Regions from separate parts of the Homo sapiens genome. Here all the other regions are reported to be linked to region 2. The links are microRNA targets in miRTarBase. Many come from high-throughput screens and were not tested one by one. Region 2 holds a microRNA gene; each other region holds the end of a gene's coding sequence.
Evidence for each region. Region 2 holds the annotated microRNA hsa-miR-107 (AGCAGCAUUGUACAGGGCUAUCA, at 3,142-3,164, shown strand). A microRNA usually pairs through its seed, bases 2 to 8, with sites in the 3' UTR of a target mRNA and lowers its output. Matches are read on the target gene's strand: a 7mer-m8 pairs with bases 2 to 8, a 7mer-A1 pairs with bases 2 to 7 and ends in A, and an 8mer does both.

Region 1: the mRNA of MTMR3 is a reported target of hsa-miR-107. The part of its 3' UTR that is shown has no 7-base or 8-base seed match.
Region 3: the mRNA of SLX9 is a reported target of hsa-miR-107. The part of its 3' UTR that is shown has no 7-base or 8-base seed match.
Region 4: the mRNA of YRDC is a reported target of hsa-miR-107. Seed matches in the 3' UTR shown: 7mer-m8 at 2,843-2,849.

The regions. Positions count from the first base shown.
Region 1 is chr22:30,025,575-30,028,574 of GRCh38, forward strand. MTMR3 (myotubularin related protein 3) reads left to right here. Exons shown (of 20, transcript NM_021090.4): 20 at 56-3,000. The coding sequence ends at 227. All of the region lies in intron 3 of HORMAD2-AS1 (HORMAD2 and MTMR3 antisense RNA 1), which reads right to left. Among named protein-coding and RNA genes, the nearest start is that of MIR6818, 20 kb to the left of the region's middle.
Region 2 is chr10:89,591,049-89,595,919 of GRCh38, reverse strand. MIR107 (microRNA 107) reads left to right here and starts at 3,093; the gene lies at 3,093-3,173. PANK1 (pantothenate kinase 1) reads left to right here. Exons shown (of 7, transcript NM_148977.3): 4 at 1,931-2,107; 5 at 2,600-2,723.
Region 3 is chr21:44,975,606-44,980,476 of GRCh38, reverse strand. SLX9 (SLX9 ribosome biogenesis factor) reads right to left here. Exons shown (of 6, transcript NM_058190.4): 6 at 3,504-3,797. The coding sequence ends at 3,674. Among named protein-coding and RNA genes, the nearest start is that of LINC00163, 16 kb to the left of the region's middle. RefSeq lists enhancers at 1-597, 598-1,496.
Region 4 is chr1:37,800,945-37,805,815 of GRCh38, reverse strand. YRDC (yrdC N6-threonylcarbamoyltransferase domain containing) reads left to right here. Exons shown (of 5, transcript NM_024640.4): 4 at 1,372-1,514; 5 at 1,819-2,871. The coding sequence ends at 1,891. MANEAL (mannosidase endo-alpha like) reads right to left here. Exons shown (of 4, transcript NM_001113482.2): 4 at 4,683-4,871. Among named protein-coding and RNA genes, the nearest start is that of C1orf122, 4.4 kb to the left of the region's middle.

The DNA.
Region 1 (3,000 bases), not on the chromosome of region 2:
CCTCCGCATACCTGCTGGCCAAAACTAACATTGTTCTGTTTCTTCTCATCTCAAGGAATTGTGGGAACGTATTCTGCTCCAGTTGTTGTAACCAGAAGGTTCCAGTTCCCAGCCAGCAGCTCTTTGAACCCAGTCGAGTATGCAAGTCTTGCTATAGCAGCCTACATCCCACAAGCTCCAGCATTGACCTTGAACTGGATAAGCCCATTGCTGCCACTTCCAACTGAAGCTCAGTGACCTGGGTGGGCAGTGGCCAAGCTGCTGTTCCTATGACAGGCCCACTCAACCTGGGCAGACCGAGAGGCCCGTGCACTTTGGAATGGGAGCGTGGAACCACCTGTACAGAGTGACAGATTTGGGATGCACCACTGGATTGTAGATTGATTTTTCTTTCCTGTCCCCCTACTCCCTCCCTACCTTTTCCATCCTCCTCCTCTGCCTTCAAAAAAGGAAACTTTCCCTTGGTTGTCTTAATTTTTTTTTTTTTTGATGGAAGACCAAGGGTTGCCAGGCCCACTGTAACTGCCGAGCTGCCTGCTGTCACGTGACACTGAGGGATGGCTTGTTTCTTCCGGGTGGGAGGATGGTGGTCAGAGCCAGGAGTATGGAGATCTGAGACCGTGAGCAGGGAAGAAAGCCAGTGCTAACATGCAACCATTCCTCACGCCACCGCCACATCAGAGCTGGTTGGGAACCCTTTGCTGCTGGGGAGGCTGGAAGCATATTCCCCAAGAGCACTGCCCTGGGCATCATCTCCCTCCTGCGAGGAGCTGAGCCAGTCCCCTCACAGATGGATAAATGAGGCTGATGTTTGGAGGGAGAGGCACACGGTAAATGGCATCCCCTTAGGCGCCTCTTTGGGAAAGGAAAGTGGATGCTCCTTTGAGGCAGGCGAGGGGCTGGGAGTGGGTAGCCGTCATGTTGTCCCCCGTGGGATCCCATTTTTAACTTGACCCAGATTGTCTTGGGCTCCTTTTACTTTCAGGGGGCTGCTTTCCTGGGCCAGGCTGTGTAGCACTTCCCACCCTCAGGCATGAGTACAGACTGGTCAAAATGTTTATGCAGTCAAGGCCAAAGCCTGCCCTGAGCCCAGACACACCTGGGTCCCCATTCTGGGGCCTGGTCCCCTAAACAATCTCTTCCTCAGCCAGCACAGGGAAATCCAGACTCAGGGTTCCAGAAATCCCCCGTTCCCAAACCAAACCAATCATGGATCTTCCCTTTAAGGGGTAGAATCAGCCTTTAGAGTTACAAGCCCCTGGAAAAGGGAGCAGGTCCCATACAATCAGCCTTTCTCCTCTTCTCTTCTTGGGACAGGAATAACTGCTGAGCAGTCCCCCTTTGCCACTCCTGGCTGTCTGAGTGGGCACTTGTCTGGCTGCTGGCCAGCAGTGAAGGGCCACTTGGTGACTTCGTAGGGTTCCTTAGAGAAGTGACATGGCCTTGAGGAGATTCAGGGCACCTTTCCTCAGTGAGCTTTGATATGGTCCAAAAACAGCCTTAAATCAAGAATATTTGTGGAGGTAGGTGTGGGGAAGGTTGGAGAAGAGTTAGGTTTGTGCTTTGTAATCTTGGCATCCATGTTTTGTGCCTGCCCTCCCTCTTGGGGAGGCCATGCTTGACTCTGCTGAAAGCTGCTAACTGGTGACAGGGTGGATCATGGTGAGGACTAGGGGTAAGGTCAGGGAATGCTTAAGCTCTGGCCCTGCCCTGTATTCCTCTTCCCCTTGGTAGCAGTTCCCTGACCAAGGGCAAGGTGTGTCTCAGGAAGGTGGTTCTGTGCATGCCTGGGTGTGGTTAAGGCGTGGCCCAGAAGGCTTCCCTGGTGCTCTCAGTCCAGGCAAAGCCCAGAGCATCTGAGCACGTCTCTGACTTCCAGTGGCAACACAGTTTGAACGTGGTGAAACAGGGTGTAGTTCTTTTCCACATTCTGTGTCATCTAGTCGTGCAGGTAGGGAAAAAGTTGGTCTAATTGAAGATTGTGCATTTCCTAGTGACAGGTGCCAAGAGGTTATGATACGGGTTTCTTGGGTCTGATGTACAGTGTGAATAAATGCTTGCAGCTCTTAGCTCTTTTTTGATCGATGAAGCACTTTTTTATTAATATTTTCCTTTGTTAAAGGAGGAACCGTAACTCTCCATAGCTGTACATATAACCCTTTTCTCCTAAAGAGGAGTCAGTCAGTGCTCCTATATTTTTCATTTTTTGTCAAAGCAAGAAGTAAATACTTTAGAATTGTTAAATATATAAATAAAGCAAATAAAGTTGAGTGTTCCACATGGTAGCATTTGCTAACACTTCCTAATTCTTTGCCCTGTGGTTTATCCCCTCTTCGTCCCTTTTCCCTCTCACACAGAAGTGTTTGAGGGCCTGCTGGGAAACTGACCTTTGGCAAAGGAAAGCTACAGATAGCCTTCCGACTCTAGACCTTGGCAAGGAGCCTCACCATGATGTTCAAGCACTGAACGCATTTCCTCAGTGATTTTGCTCCTAAAATCTCCCAGGCTAAAAGAGGGCAAAGCAGTCAGGGATCTGACCTGGCAGCTATTCCTCCTTCTCTGAAGAGTTCCCATCAGTAGTCATTACAACTACCTCTCGCCTCAAGGCTCCATTTTTAGCTGCTGCTCTGATTTCAGGGCAGCCAGTACTCTGGCCCCTTCAGTCGGGGAGTGGAAGGAGATGTGGGGTGGGGGTGAGAAAATGCTTCTGCCTGTTGTTCTTGAAGGATAGACTATGGGTGGGCAGAGAGAACTGGGGGCAGAAATGGAATTAGATGTGATTGGGTTATGCAGTCAACTAGAGGTCTCCTTCCCGCCCTCTCTCCACACAGAGAGGAACCTCTGCTCCTTAGCTCTTACAGCAGGACTGTGGCATCTAGTCACTTCAATACTAGTTCTTGCTCTTCACAGAGGTAGATTTTTCTTTACCCTACAGCACTGTTGGGCATCCCTCCCATCACATGGGTCTGTGGGTGAGATATGTTATGCTGTTCCTCCCTC
Region 2 (4,871 bases):
ATATATATATGTGTGTGTGTACATATATATATTAGTAAATGAAGTTATATATATATATATATATATATATATATATATATATATATTTTTTTTTTTTTTTTTTAAGATGGAGTCCGGCTCTGTCACCCAGGCTGGAGTGCAGTGGTGCAATCTCGGCTCACTACAGCCTCCACCAGGGTACAAGTAATCCCCGCACCTCAGCATCCAGAGTAGCTAGGATTACAGGCGCGTGCCACCAAGGCTGGCTAATTTTTGTATTTTTAATAGAGACAGGGTTTCACCGTGTTGACCAGGCTGGTCTCAAACTCCTGACCTCAGGTGATCCACCCACCTTGGCCTGCAAAAGTGCTGGGATTACAGGCATAAGCCACCACGCCTGGCCTCAATCAAGTATACTTTTATACAAATGACAATTTAAGAATATTACACATAGTTTCACTATTTCATTTTATTTTATTATTTTTTGAGATGGAGTCTCGCTGTGTCTGTCGCCCAGGCTGGAGTGCAATGGCACAATCCCGGCTCACTGCAACCTCCACCTCCTGGGTTCAAGCAATTCTCCTTCCTCAGTTTTCTGAGTAGCTTGGATTACAGGTGTCAGCCACCACACCTGGCTAATTTTTGTATTTTTAATGGAGACAGAGTTTCACCTTGTTGGCCAGGCTGGTCTCAAACTCCTGACCTCAAGTAATTTGCCTGTCTCAGCCTCCCAAAGTGCTGGTATTACAGGCATGAGCCACCACGCCCGGTCAGTTTCGTTTTAGATGCATCTTCAAGAACTATGTACCTATCTACAGTTTTGTACCTTCTTGTTAACAGTTATTGACATTATTAAACATAACCTTAATCCCAAATTGATTTTATTCTTAGAAGTAAAAGCCAGTGCTCAAACACAAATTGAATTTCCAAAGCTAGTAGCTCTTTGGGGCTTCAGAACAGATGGATGTGAGCAGCTCTTCTTCATTTACTCTTCTACATGGTAAAGAAATAGGAAAACCTATGTCCATTAGCTTTAGGAATCAATACTCCTTTTCCTGCTGGGAGTTCACTGGCGATACTTTACTCTGAATCTGCTTTTCTTTCCATTAGGTAACTTTGATATTAATACACAATTGAGTTCATTCTTGGCTACTGTAATTACTTTCTAATTTTGTCTAGGCTGTTTTAGAGGAACTTTCCCTCTAAACAAGTCAAAGCTTTTTAAATGTAGTTCAACCATTGGAACCACTTTATGACCTTTGTTACTGTTTTTTACTATGGAGTGGTAAGTAATATACTAAAAACCTTCTGGAGAGTCTACTAGGAAAAAATTCAGTATCAGATCAGTGGTTCCTTTCTAGAAATATTCAAGGAGGCTAAATGAGATTATCTCTGCTAGAGAAGCAAGGTCAGGTAAAACACAGCTTTTAAGACAGGCCACTCCTGGCACAATCCTGGGTCAGTTTTGTCATCAGAGGGTTTGGCTTCATAGCTTTGAACTATGCTTTATGTACACACAAATTCTTTTTCTAGGTATTTATATTCAGCTGCATATGGTTTTTTAATAGGAGTTATTTCTTGGTTATTTGCTGCTTTCAGACCACCCAAATAGAAGAGATCATGATTTGGCCCCATTTCATAGGTGGGAAGGCTGAACAAAGCACTCAGGTTAGTGGCTAGTTGAAGGTCTCACAACAGAAATCAGTGAGAGTCTTTCTTTGGTTTTGTTCTCAAATTTAGGGGCAAATTTTCCTTGATGTTTATTTTTAGTCTCTGCCCTCTTTTCATATCCAGTCTACCCTAAAGCTCTGTTGCACCCTAGCACTTTAATTCAAGTGCCCCTTTGTTCGTCTGCTTTTATTCACCCATATTAATAGTCTTGACGTAGTTGGGGACTTGGATGGGCATATCTTAAAGTAAAATTTAAAAATAAACCTTATTATTCCTTCAGTCTTGGAGGTGGAACATTCCTAGGCCTATGTTGCTTGCTGACTGGTTGTGAGACCTTTGAAGAAGCTCTGGAAATGGCAGCTAAAGGCGACAGCACCAATGTTGATAAACTGGTGAAGGACATTTACGGAGGAGACTATGAACGATTTGGCCTTCAAGGATCTGCTGTAGCATCAAGGTAGAGATTAAGTAGCTAGGAGCAGTAGTGATTAAACACAAGGCAGCCTCTCCACCCTGGCCATTCACTAAGTTGTTTTAAAATGTCAGTCCACCAGCCTGGTGCAGATACCTGTTGTATCAGAGCTCAGACTTGATCTCCTGCCCTTGATGAAGCACTGAGATGTTTAGCTCTTGATGCTTGTTCTTAAAATAAGGCAACTTTGAAAGAAGGTTCTAGAAAACTGCAATAGTTTCACCTGTTCCATTCTTGTCCAGATATCTAGAGGCATTAATTTTCCCCCCCCATTAATGGACATGCTACTTTGTCCCTATTAAGAAAAGGGCGGTCAGCCATGCATACTATAATTCTGTCTGCTTATAAACCATAGTAGCAAAATTGGATCACTTGAGTTTGAACAGTTACTCGTAGAGCCTTCCACAATACTTTGGTGGAAGGATGGGCCCTGCCTGAGGACGATTTTGAACACTCTCGCTGATATTTCCAACATAGCTTTGGCAACATGATGAGTAAAGAAAAGCGAGATTCCATCAGCAAGGAAGACCTCGCCCGGGCCACATTGGTCACCATCACCAACAACATTGGCTCCATTGCTCGGATGTGCGCGTTGAATGAGGTAAGGCCTTACTCAACCCGGTGAAAGCTGTGTGTCATTCATATACATCATCTTGGCAGTGCAACACCTGTTGACTCTTACACAACTACATATCCTTAGGAAAGCTTCCCTTTACTCTAGTCACACTTTACAGAACAGGAGGGGTGTGTGTTGGGGGAGGGGGAGGAATATATGCTTTATTTTTAAGAAGGCACTGGATGATAATGAATGATAAACCATTCACCTGTGGAAACAGGATACAATTACAACCCATGTCATAGTCTCTCTAACCATCATTATTGCCATGTGTCCACTGAAATGTGAGGAAAAGGTCTGAGCATCCTTGCACATAACTGCAGGTAAAATGCTCGACTTGCAATATTCGATATTCTCTCTGCTTTCAGCTTCTTTACAGTGTTGCCTTGTGGCATGGAGTTCAAGCAGCATTGTACAGGGCTATCAAAGCACAGAGAGCTTGCTACAGCCAAGGCCAGCCAGAGTCCCAGGCACAAAAAGGGGTGGAGCTGGTGACATACAAAGTTGTATTAACATGTTTTGAAGCATTGCAAGATTCGTTTGGAAAAAATTGAACCTTTTCTGAAATACAAGGTGTATAAAGTAGAACTCTTCACACTGAGGTATATTAGAAAGACAGGAAAGAGGAGTTGAGGCATGGAACAGGTCATAGGAGAGTATTAAAGAACCACAGTAGATCTGTAATGGAGTTTTTATAAATACAGCTTTTAATAGAGGTGACATACATACAGAAGAAGGCTCAAATTATAAGCTTACAGTTTAATTTACACACACAAGCAACCCTGTATAGCCATCACCCAGATCAAGAAATAGAACATTATAGGTACTCAGAAAGCCCCTTGAGCCCCCTCTCAGTTGAATAGTTGAATGTTAGTGTATGAGGCAGTCTTTATGATACATGGGTGTTAGCCCTGCCTTTGAGTTCTGGGTTGACAAAAAACATACTCTCCTTGCATAACACTGAACAGAGTATGTTACTGGCCTGCAGATCAGCGATATACCTTTTTGGAAGCCCTCAGTTCAGACGGAGTTTAAATGGGAGGCTGATACTCAGAGAAAAGAGCATTCCAGAGATGTTTTTTCAAAGTCCACTTGAGTCATGGGACTCAATGTAACAGAGTTTATTTCTTGACATTAACCTTTAAAGGGAATTTTTCCAAGTAATGAAACAAGCCCCAAGACCAATATGTGTGTAGTTGGCTGTACTCATGGGCTCTCAAAGGTCAGCTGGTAACAACCCTTGCCCCACAGAGCAATAGATGCCCTTTCCCCTACTTTCCGCAGAGCTGGCTTCTTGTGCTTTTTGCTGGAGTGAGCCAGCAGGTCAGCAGGTCTTTTCACAGGCATCAGAATCCCTTTGGGAGAGAGCAACTGACTTTACTTTTCACTTTTGATTTCAATTTCAATATTGTTGATTGGTGGAGTAGAGCGAGTGCCAATTTGAAAATGTAGCCATGTTATACACTGGTTTGAGCAACTATTTTATATGTTTCTGTGGGGCTGAATGAGTGAAGGGAATCACCAGTCGCCTTGGGGCCAAGGCTCTACCAGAGGGTGTCCAGTCAGTGCAGACTCCCAGTGGCCGCACCAGTGACTGGCAGTGTTGCATTTCCCATGAGAGCAGCCACCAAGTCCCTCAGTCCTTGCTTTGCTCTCTGGAGTCACTGATTTGAGAACCTTTGATTGCAGCCATTTCATTGAGGGACACCACGTTTACCAAATCTAAAACATTTTTGCTGTGATTCTTGAGATGCTGTGAAATGCTTCCCCATCAGTTATAAATTTTCTGATTCAAATTTTTGGATAGATAATACAAACACATAATACAGACTTCTAAGACATTAGAAGGATACACAAGGAAGTGAGTCACCATTTCCACTTCTGTCTCTCAGTGTTAACCTCAGTAGAGGCTGCCATTTTTTTTAGGGTTTTTTTGTTTGTTTTTATTGTACGTATTACAATATATCTTTGTTTATATTGTATGTAATGTAGGATACATTTATCTTTCCAAAGGTAGCAAACTCTATATAGCATTCTTTTTACAAAATAATAGCTTTATTGAAATATAATTATATGCTATACAATTCACCCTCCATATACTATTCTATATCTTGCTTTATCAGCTTTTTATTA
Region 3 (4,871 bases), not on the chromosome of region 2:
GAGGGCCGGGGGCTTTCTTGGGGAAAGGCGGATCCAATAGCTGCTGGGTGTGGGCCTTACAGAAGCCTGGTAGGTGCTGAGAGGTGGTTTCCTCAGCCCCCCTTGGAGTGGCCACACTAAGTGCAGCCTGAGGACAGCCAGGGACAAAGGAGATCCCGGGCGCCTGGAAGGAGAACCTGGGCCTGCCCGGGGCTGAGGGAGACCCCCCAGGGCCTGTGGCCATCCCAGCCAGGAGCCCTTCACTCTGGGCCAGGCATTTGCTATTCCTTTGGCCAACACCCCACACCCCCTGCAACCAGACACTGCCCTTCCTGCGGGACTGGCAGGGTGGGGGGCTCCTCCCACTGCCTCTCCTGTCTCCCATTGTGCCCCACAGTCCCCCATATGCCAACACTGGGCCTGGGGCTGAGGCACCCGGGACGTGCCCAGCCCAGGTCTGCGGGCCTTGAGCCTGGCATCCACGGTCCCAGCCCAGAGCTTCTCAGAGTCCTGCAGGCCAGCGCCAGGCACCTCCAGGCCCCAGGAAGCTTTGATCTGCTGTGTTAACCCTTTAACTCGGAAAAATGCACCGAGGGCCCCAGGGTCTAAAAGGCATGAAAGCCGAGTCAACTGTAGAACTTGTTTAAATCGATTACCGAGGGATTCATGTTCCTGCTCCTGAAGCTCCTACAGTCATCCTCTCTGATCTGCTGATTCAGGGGCTCTACCCCAGGTGTCTGTCCAGAGAATGCACACACCCCATCCTCCGCCTGGAGCCTCCCTCTCAATGGTGGCCAGGAGCGCTCAGCTGACAGCCACGGATAACCCCACACTTGGACGCCCTTCTGTCACAAGATGACCCTGCCCCAGCTGCGGCCTTAGCTGAGGGTTGGGCTCTGCACCTGCAAAGAATGCTGGGGTGGCACCCCCGCAAATACTATCAAGGGCTACTTTCCTGGGACAATCTGCATCCATCTCAGCCGATGGGACACCTGCTGCCACTCCTGCCCGGCCAAGTACCTGTCGCTGTCCTTCCACGGCACCCTCCGCCCTTCCGCGGCACCCTCCTCCCTTCCGCGGCATCCTCCTCCCTTCCGCGGCACCCTCCTCCACACGACTCTCAGGCACCGCCGGGGGCTGCTTACCCAGGGAGGAGTTAGAGGCCCCTGAGCCCGCAAGGATCCCTAGAAGAGGGGCTGCGAGCCACAACCAGACAAGAGTCATTTCAAAACCAGGAAGCAAAAAACATTTTTACGTTTTTATTTTTTAGAGAGAGGATCACCCTGTCACCCAGGTGGGAGTGCTGTGGCGCAATCTTGGCTCACTATAGCCACGGCCTCCTAGGCTCAAGCAATCCTCCCACCTCAGCCTCCCCAGTAGCTGACTACAGGCACGCACCACCACACCCGGCTAATTTTTCTATTTTTTTGTCAAGATGGGGTCTCACTATGTTGGCTGGTCTTGAACTCCTGGCCTCAAGTGATACGACTGCCTTGGCCTCCCCAAGTGCTGGGACTACAGGTGTGCGCCACTGCGCCCGGCCAGGTTTTTCACAAGAAACCCAGACGGTGGGATTGGGATGCTGGAGGAAGTGGAAGCCGCCCCTGCCGCCTCCCCACCGCGCTGTGCTCTGTGCATCCCGGACGCTGTTCCCAACACGCGCCCCACATCCGCCCCACACGCGCCCCACACCCGCCCCACACCCGCCCCACACGCGCCCCTCACGCGCTCCACACCCGCCCCACACGCGCCCCACACCCGCCCCACACGCGCCCCACACACGTTCCACACACGTTCCACACGTGCCCCACACCCGCCCCACACGCGCCCCACACCCGCCCCACACGCGCCCCACACCCGCCCCACACCCGCTCCACACGCGCCCCACACACGTTCCACACGCGCCCCACACCCGCCCCACACGCGCCCCACACCCGCCCCACACGCGCCCCACACCCGCCCCACACGCGCCCCACACCCGCCCCACACGCGCCCCACACCCGCCCCACACGCGCCCCACACCCGCCCCACACCCGCCCCACACCCGCCCCACACACGTTCCACACGCGCCCCACACCCGCTCCACACGCGCCCCACACGCGCCCCACACGCGCCCCACACGCGCTCCACCACAGGAATGGTTTTGTCGCGACCACTGGTTTGTGACCAGCTCCTCTGAAGCGAGAAGCCCGTTCTCTAAGGAGCTGGGGCTGGGCAGCCAAGCTGGCCCCGGCCGAGGGAGCGTGGGATCTGCTGCCTATGGCTCCTGTACGCCCGTCTGTCCCATCGGCCGGGGCCTTGGAGGGTGTCCGGGCTGTCTCTGTGGATGCCGTGTCTGCTCGTGTCAGGGAAGGGCCAGGACACTGAACAGCAGGGACACAGGCTCCAACTTGCCTCGGCCACCCACTCGCCAGGCATCCTTGGCGGGGCTGCTGGGGCTATGAACCCTGAGCAGGCAGCAAGGCCAGAGGAGGTCGGATCATGGGGGCTCACAACAAGAGGGGCTGTGCATAGGGGCCACCCACATGCCCTGGAGCCAGGAGGCCCCAGAGTCCCTGGGACCACCCCCACCCCAGGCAGCCTGGGAAGGCTCAGGGTGCTGGGCCCCCGCCTGGGAGCTGAGAGTGGTCCTGCTCTGCACTTCCCAGACACTCTGAGTGGGGTACACCACCACATCCAGCCTGCCCAGCCCCGCTGCAGGACATGGGCCAGCGAGGCCCTGCAGGGCCCTGGGACGGGGGGAGCTCGGGCAGGGGGAGCCAAGCTGGGCCTCAGGGGCCTGGGGACGCACCACCCCCTTGCTTTCCACAACCTGAAAACAAGGACTGATCAGTCACTGATTCACAGTCCAAAAACCAACCCCCAAATCCCAGGGCTTCCAGCAACAAAGGAGGACCTCTCTCACTTCCGGGTCAGCAAGAGCTTCAGGGCTGGGCCCACTCCGCGTCTCCTCCCTGCAGAAGGACCCTCTGCTCTCCGCCCCCAGAGCAAGGCAGTGGGCTGCCTGGGTGTGGAGCAGCTGGGTAGGGTGAGGGCAACGGGTGGGGTAGGGGGGGTGCAGCCCACAGGCGAGGAGCAGGCCGGGGGCCTTGCCAGGGCCATCTGTGTCCCTGGTCACTGAGGATGGCAGGGGAGACTGGAAGGGAAACAGACCCCCAGGTGGTGAAGGCCCTGAGCCAGCCCCCACGGCAGCCCCTGCAGGCCTCAGTGCTCCTGGATCCTACCAGGGCCGCAGCAGGAACTGAGGCTGAAGCAAATCAGGGCGGCTGGTGGCACAGCTGGGGCCACACCCAGGCACAATTCCTTCCCAACACAGCCAGCAGACTATCTTGTGGGCACCAGCGCCTGCTCAGGGACGGACTTGGGGCCTCCACAACTGCAGTCCCCACAAACCCTGTGCACGGTCCACCCTGACTGCGTGGGGGCTGGGGCCCCCAGTGGAGGGATGTGGCTTGTTGTCCTGAGGAGAGTGGGGGCAGCTGTCCCAGGGTGTGCCCAGCCCTGTGAATCAGGGAAGCAGCTCATGGGAACGGCCCTGGCAGTGCAGGGGAAGTTCACAGAGCCATTTATTGAGCCCCACAACCGACCAGAGGGAAGGGCGTCCACCAGGCTCAGGCCATGGTCCTTGAGGGGCCGGCGCTCTCTACTTGGCCCACATGTGTCCTGAGGAGTTGTGGCATGCCCGCTGCCCTGGTCAGAGCTGGCCGCCATCTTCCAGCTGCATCTGCCGGGCCAGCGTCTGCCCGATGGCCACCAGGGGGCTGGCTCTGTAGGCCGGACTGGCCAGCAGCTCCTGAAACCGGGTCCTTTCTTCCTCGCTGAAAGAATGGAGACCACAGATCAGCAGGCAGGAACCCCCGGACCCCTCAGCCCCTCAACACCCGGAAACGTCAGACACCGAAATGAATGGCAGAGGCCTGGGGCCACCACGGGACTGAGTACTGGGGCCTCGGAAACTTCCGGCAGGAGGGGAGAGGCTGCCCCGGGCCCTCCTCGTGGCCACGTGCATCCCAGAGCCCTGGCAGCGCCCACTGTGGGGTCTGCCGTTGAGGTGTCACCCAGCCAGCAAGTCTGGGGCTGATGGGGCTGCCGCCAAGGCTGAGAAACGCGGCGGCAACTCCCAAGCCCTGCAGACTCACTCCTTACATGAGAGACGGCTCCCTCCACGGGCAACCAAAATAGGTGCACACAGAGGAGAGCCGAGAGCCGAGAGCCGAGAGCCTGAGCCGGCAGAGGCCTGCAGCAGAGTGGGGCGCGGCAGCCCCAGATGGGTGCCACGGCGACGACCCAGCATGGCACCAGCTCACCCCAGCCGCCACCCAGCCCGGCGGCCACTCAGCTCCTGCTCTAAACCCCGCGCAGCCAGCCGCACGCCAGAGAGCTGCCCTGTGGAACACAAAAGGTGGCCTGGGTCCCCTCTCAGGCACAGAAGCCTCGGGGGCAGCTCCCAGACGGGCTCTGCCGCAGCTGCCAAGAGGCCCTGAGCCTGGTGGCGGGGAGGTGGGGCCTGTACCCCTCCGGCCTGTGTGCCCCGTGTGCACGGAGCCTTGTGCAAGGCTGGACCACACTGGCCCTGGTTTCCTGGGCAGTTGACAAGGCTCTTTCACACCCCGCTGGACGACCGCCTGGGCGGGGTGCCCACACACCAGAGCCACAGAGGACAGTGGGGCTGGGGCCGTCTCCACAGCAGGAGGCGGTCAGGGCTCTGCTGGTCACTAACCACCACCTCCTCCTGCCACTGCCACCCTGGCCCCAGCATGGCAGCTGGGGCTGTCCCCGTAAAGTCAGGGTGAAATGCCCCAGTCACAGCCTGGACATTACTAGTGATCTCTGGGGCTACCAGGACCCAACAAGGCCCCACCTGGGGCAACTGAGGAGCCGAGGCCAGGGGA
Region 4 (4,871 bases), not on the chromosome of region 2:
AGTCCAGAGTTAGAGCCCGTATCCCTGCTCAGAACTCCATTCGATGGGTTTTCCATTCCCAGACCTAGAGTGGGGCTCAGGGTTCTTAGAAAGTGAGAGTTCAGCATCCCTTCCCATTCTCAGAGTGCAGGTTTGACTTGGTCCTGGTGGCTGTACCCCAGGAGCAAGAATCGGGATGTGGCACAGGGAGGGGAGGTTTTTACCTTGTCAGCAATCATTTGACCTGTCCAACACAGTAACTGGTATTTATGATTTCCTGTCCCAGATTTCCAGGCCTAACTGCCACTGCAGTGTCTTCCTTGGGGGGTTGGGGAAGCTCTAGCTCAGTTAACAATTCAGTCCACTGCTCTAGGGGGAGTATCCTTCTCATAGCCCAAAGACTGAGTGCTGGTGGCATGCAGAATCTACCATGTTCTACTCTTCCTACCCTGATCAGAGTCGCAGTGAGATCCAGGAGCATAGTTCTAGAGCTAGAAGGAGCTGGAATCACTTGTTCCAGGTTACGCAGCCATTAAGTGACCAGATTTTTACCTAGTTTTTTTTTGTTTTGTTTTGTTTGAGACAGTCTCACTCTCTTGCCCAGGCTGGAGTGCAGTGGCACCATCTCAGCTCACTGCAACCTCCATCTCCCGGGTTCAAACAGTTCTCCTGCCTCAGCCTCCCGAGTGAGTAGCTGGGATTACAGGCGTGTGCCACCATGCCCGGCTAATTTTTGTATTTTTAGTAGAGATGGGGTTTCACTATGTTGACCAGGCTAGTCTCAAACTCCTGGCCTCAAGAGATCCAGCCTCCCAAAGTGCTGAGATTACAGGCGTGAGCCACCATGCCTGGTCTTTTTACCTAGTTTTTGACTCTTGACCCTGTTCTCTTATCTTTGCGGCAAGCCAGGTCAAAGAAAAGATCATCCTAGTCCTGTCTTGGCTACATAGATTAGAACAAATGAAATGAGGACATAGGATCATCTAGTCCAGCCCACTTGTCTTGTAGGCCTGGATAGAGTAACTTGCATGCAGTCACACGGAGATACGATGGAAAGTCTAGAGTTATAGCCCGTATCTCTGCCCAGAACTCCATTCATTGTACTTATATTTCCCTAACTGAAGCAATGTGTGAAATTTCCTTTTGACATAGCAAGATTTTCTTTAAACCCTAGATAGGTGTTACTTGGAGTGCTAACCCAGGAGGCCTCCAAACCTCATAGAATACAGTGTCTTTGGCACAGTTGACCTTAACTAAATGAAGCTCCTTTCTCTGCTTAGAGGAAAGTGCCTTCTGTTTTAAGACTATATGGCCTTTGATGACTGCGTGCAGTTTGACATTATTGGATACACCAGGGATAGTGTCCATGCTCTTCCTTCTCCCTCTTCTCAGGAGTTCCAGGATCTCTGGCCTCAGTTGTCCTTGGTTATTGATGGGGGACAAATTGGGGATGGCCAGAGCCCCGAGTGTCGCCTTGGCTCAACTGTGGTTGATTTGTCTGTGCCCGGAAAGTTTGGCATCATTCGTCCAGGCTGGTAAGTCTCTTTCCTGTGGTGTGGGGAAATAATTTGAGGGAGGTTGGAGAGATGCAAAAAAGCTTTGACAAGATAAAGATGGTGCCTCCTATGTTGCCCTGAAGGAGTGTGGGCCAGGTTTGGAGAAGTGGTAGTTGCAGTGGGACTAAGTTTCCTGGCTTTCTTAGGATTCAAAAGGTTTCATCAAGGGTTGATGAACAGGGCTTAACAAGGCTAGCCAGTTTCGATGTCCCTGCTCACCAGCCTCTGGTGGGCTCGGGACTTCTGAGAAGTCAGACTGGTAACTGTCCTGTTTCCTCCTCAGTGCCCTGGAAAGTACTACAGCCATCCTCCAACAGAAGTACGGACTGCTCCCCTCACATGCGTCCTACCTGTGAAACTCTGGGAAGCAGGAAGGCCCAAGACCTGGTGCTGGATACTATGTGTCTGTCCACTGACGACTGTCAAGGCCTCATTTGCAGAGGCCACCGGAGCTAGGGCACTAGCCTGACTTTTAAGGCAGTGTGTCTTTCTGAGCACTGTAGACCAAGCCCTTGGAGCTGCTGGTTTAGCCTTGCACCTGGGGAAAGGATGTATTTATTTGTATTTTCATATATCAGCCAAAAGCTGAATGGAAAAGTTAAGAACATTCCTAGGTGGCCTTATTCTAATAAGTTTCTTCTGTCTGTTTTGTTTTTCAATTGAAAAGTAATTAAATAACAGATTTAGAATCTAGTGAGAGCCTCCTCTCTGGTGGGTGGTGGCATTTAAGGTTCAAACCAGCCAGAAGTGCTGGTGCTGTTTAAAAAGTCTCAGGTGGCTGCGTGTGGTGGCTCATGCCTGTAATCCCAACATTCTGGGAGGCCCAGGCGGGAGAACTGCTTGAGCCCAGGAGTTCAGAATCAGCCTGGGCAACATAGCAATACTCCGTCTCATAAAAATTAATAAATAAAAAGTCTCAGGTGACCAAAGGCTCCTGAAGCTAGAACCAGGTTTGGATAAAGATTGAAGAGCCACAGGCCACTCTTCCCTCTGAGCCATTGGGCCTAGTGGTGTCATGTATTGTAATTGCTCGCAGGGAGAGCAGTCTTTTTGGTGTAATAGTGGGATGTCTGCTTAGTTGGCAGGGGTTCAGTCCAAATGGAAGAATATTGGGAAATAAACCTCCACTATCCTTTATAGCCAGGGACTTTTTTCTTATTTATTCATAAAATAAATTATAGTTAATTATACCCATAACACCTTTATTTAAATCCAGTGTTCTCCGCAGCCTTTTGTCTATTTATATGTGTACCAAGTGTTAAACATAATTATTATTGGGCATTTGAACTTTGTTTTTCTTTAAAGAAATGCTGCTATTAAACATATTTGTAAATGGTTTGTTTTTCTTCTTTTGAATTATTTCCTTAGGAGAGTAGGTCAAAGTGTAGGAAGTATTTATGGCTCTCAGTATGGATTAGCCTTCAAAAGAACTGAGTCAAGTTACACTGCTGTTAGCAGTGTGTGAGAATGGCTGCCTCTGCCCCCTGGCCTTCCCATGTTTAGTATTTTTCAGATTGTGTGTGTGTTAAATGAAGCCAGTGTTGCTACCTTCTGTAAATTACTACAGGTCAACATCCAACCCTTTCAGCTGTCCCTGCCTGCCTTGGTTTCCCCAGCTAAGCCCCAAAGCCAGGTGGCCAGGCCTGCTCATCTCTCTGGTGGGGCTTAATATCAGTTACCTAACTGGGGCTGGGTGTCCTTGAGGTGACCACTGGGGTCTATTTCCTCCTTCCTCCCCTTCCCTCTTGTACCCTAGTTCCCAAAATTCTGATTCAGTCTTTTTTTTTTTTTTTTGAGACAGAATCTCTGTTGCCCACACTGGAGTGCAGTGGCACGATCTTGGCTCGCTGCAAACTCCGCCTCCCAGGTTCAAGTGATTCTCACACATCAGCCTCCTGAGTAGCTGGGACTACAGGTGTGCACCACCACACCCTGCTAATTTTTTTGGTATTTTTAGTAGAGATGGAGTTTTGCCATGTTGGTCAGGCTGTTCTTGAACTCCTGGCCTGAAGTGATCCACCCGCCTTGGCTTCCCAAAGTGCTGGGATTACAGGCATGAGCCAAGGCACTCAGCCCATTTTTTACTTTTTTAAAGACACGTCTCTCTGTGTTGCCCAGGCTGGTCTCGAACTCCTGAACTCATCCTTCCACCTCAGCCTCCCAGAGTGCTGGGATTACAGGCATGAGCGACCACGCCTAGCTTCCAATTCAGTCTTGAGCCCATAAACTTCTCAGTACAGTGGTTTCCAATGCACCTGTTTCCAAGTATATCCTAAGAATCTTGTGTTAACAGGGGCCTGCTTTAATCAGGGTTCCTGCAATTAGCGTATTAGTTTATTGGTAAATAAGCACTGGTTTGTTAATTCCCTCTAGAAATCTTGTTTAGTAATGTTTTTTGTGTTTTCTTTTTGTTTGTTTGTTTGTTGTTTTTGTTTTGAGACAGTCTTGCTCTTGCCCAGGCTGGAGTCCAGTGGTGCCACATTGGCTCACTGCAACCTCCGCCTCCCAGGTTCAAGCGGTTCTCCTGCCTCAGCCTCAGAAGTAGCTGGGATTACAGGCACCCACGCCCAGCTAATTTTTGTATTTTTAGTAGGGATGGGGTTTCACCATGTTGGCCAGGCTGGTCTCGAACTCCTGACCTCAGGTGATCCACCTTCCTTGGCCTCCCAAAGTGCTGGGATTACAGGTGTGAGCCACCACGCCCAGCCTTGTTTAGTAACTTTTTTTTTTTTGAGACGGAGTCTCGCTCTGTCGCCCAGGCTGGAGTGCAGTGGCGTGATCTCGGCTCACTGCAAGCTCCGCCTCCCGGGTTCACGCCATTCTCCTGCCTCAGCCTCCCAAGTAGCTGGGACTACAGGCGCCCACCACTACGCCTGGCTAATTTTTTTGTATTTTTAGTAGAGACGTGGTTTCACCCTGTTAGCCAGGATGGTCTCGATCTCCTGACCTCGTGATCCGCCCATCTCGGCCTCCCAAAGTGCTGGGATTACAGGAGTGAGCCACCACGCCCAGCCATTGTTTAGTAATTTCTTAAGCAAACCTACTTGTTGTGGTAAAGCCATAGCCAGCCCAGCTCCTGTATCAGTTTGTCACAGAATCTAAGGTCAGAATCTGTGAGGTCTTAAAGAGAGCAAAAGGAATGCTTACTTGAGAATACCAGTTCATATTTAATTACTACTAATCACAGTAGCACTGAACATGGCTCTAGTGAGTGGGCCTCAGTCAGTTCAGGCAGCTAAAGGGAGGGGGATTTCCTCCTAGTCCTCTCCCTAGAGCTAAATATGCATCTGGGAAAAATTAGGCTCTGGAGCACAGAGGTATTTTTCTAGAGGAAAA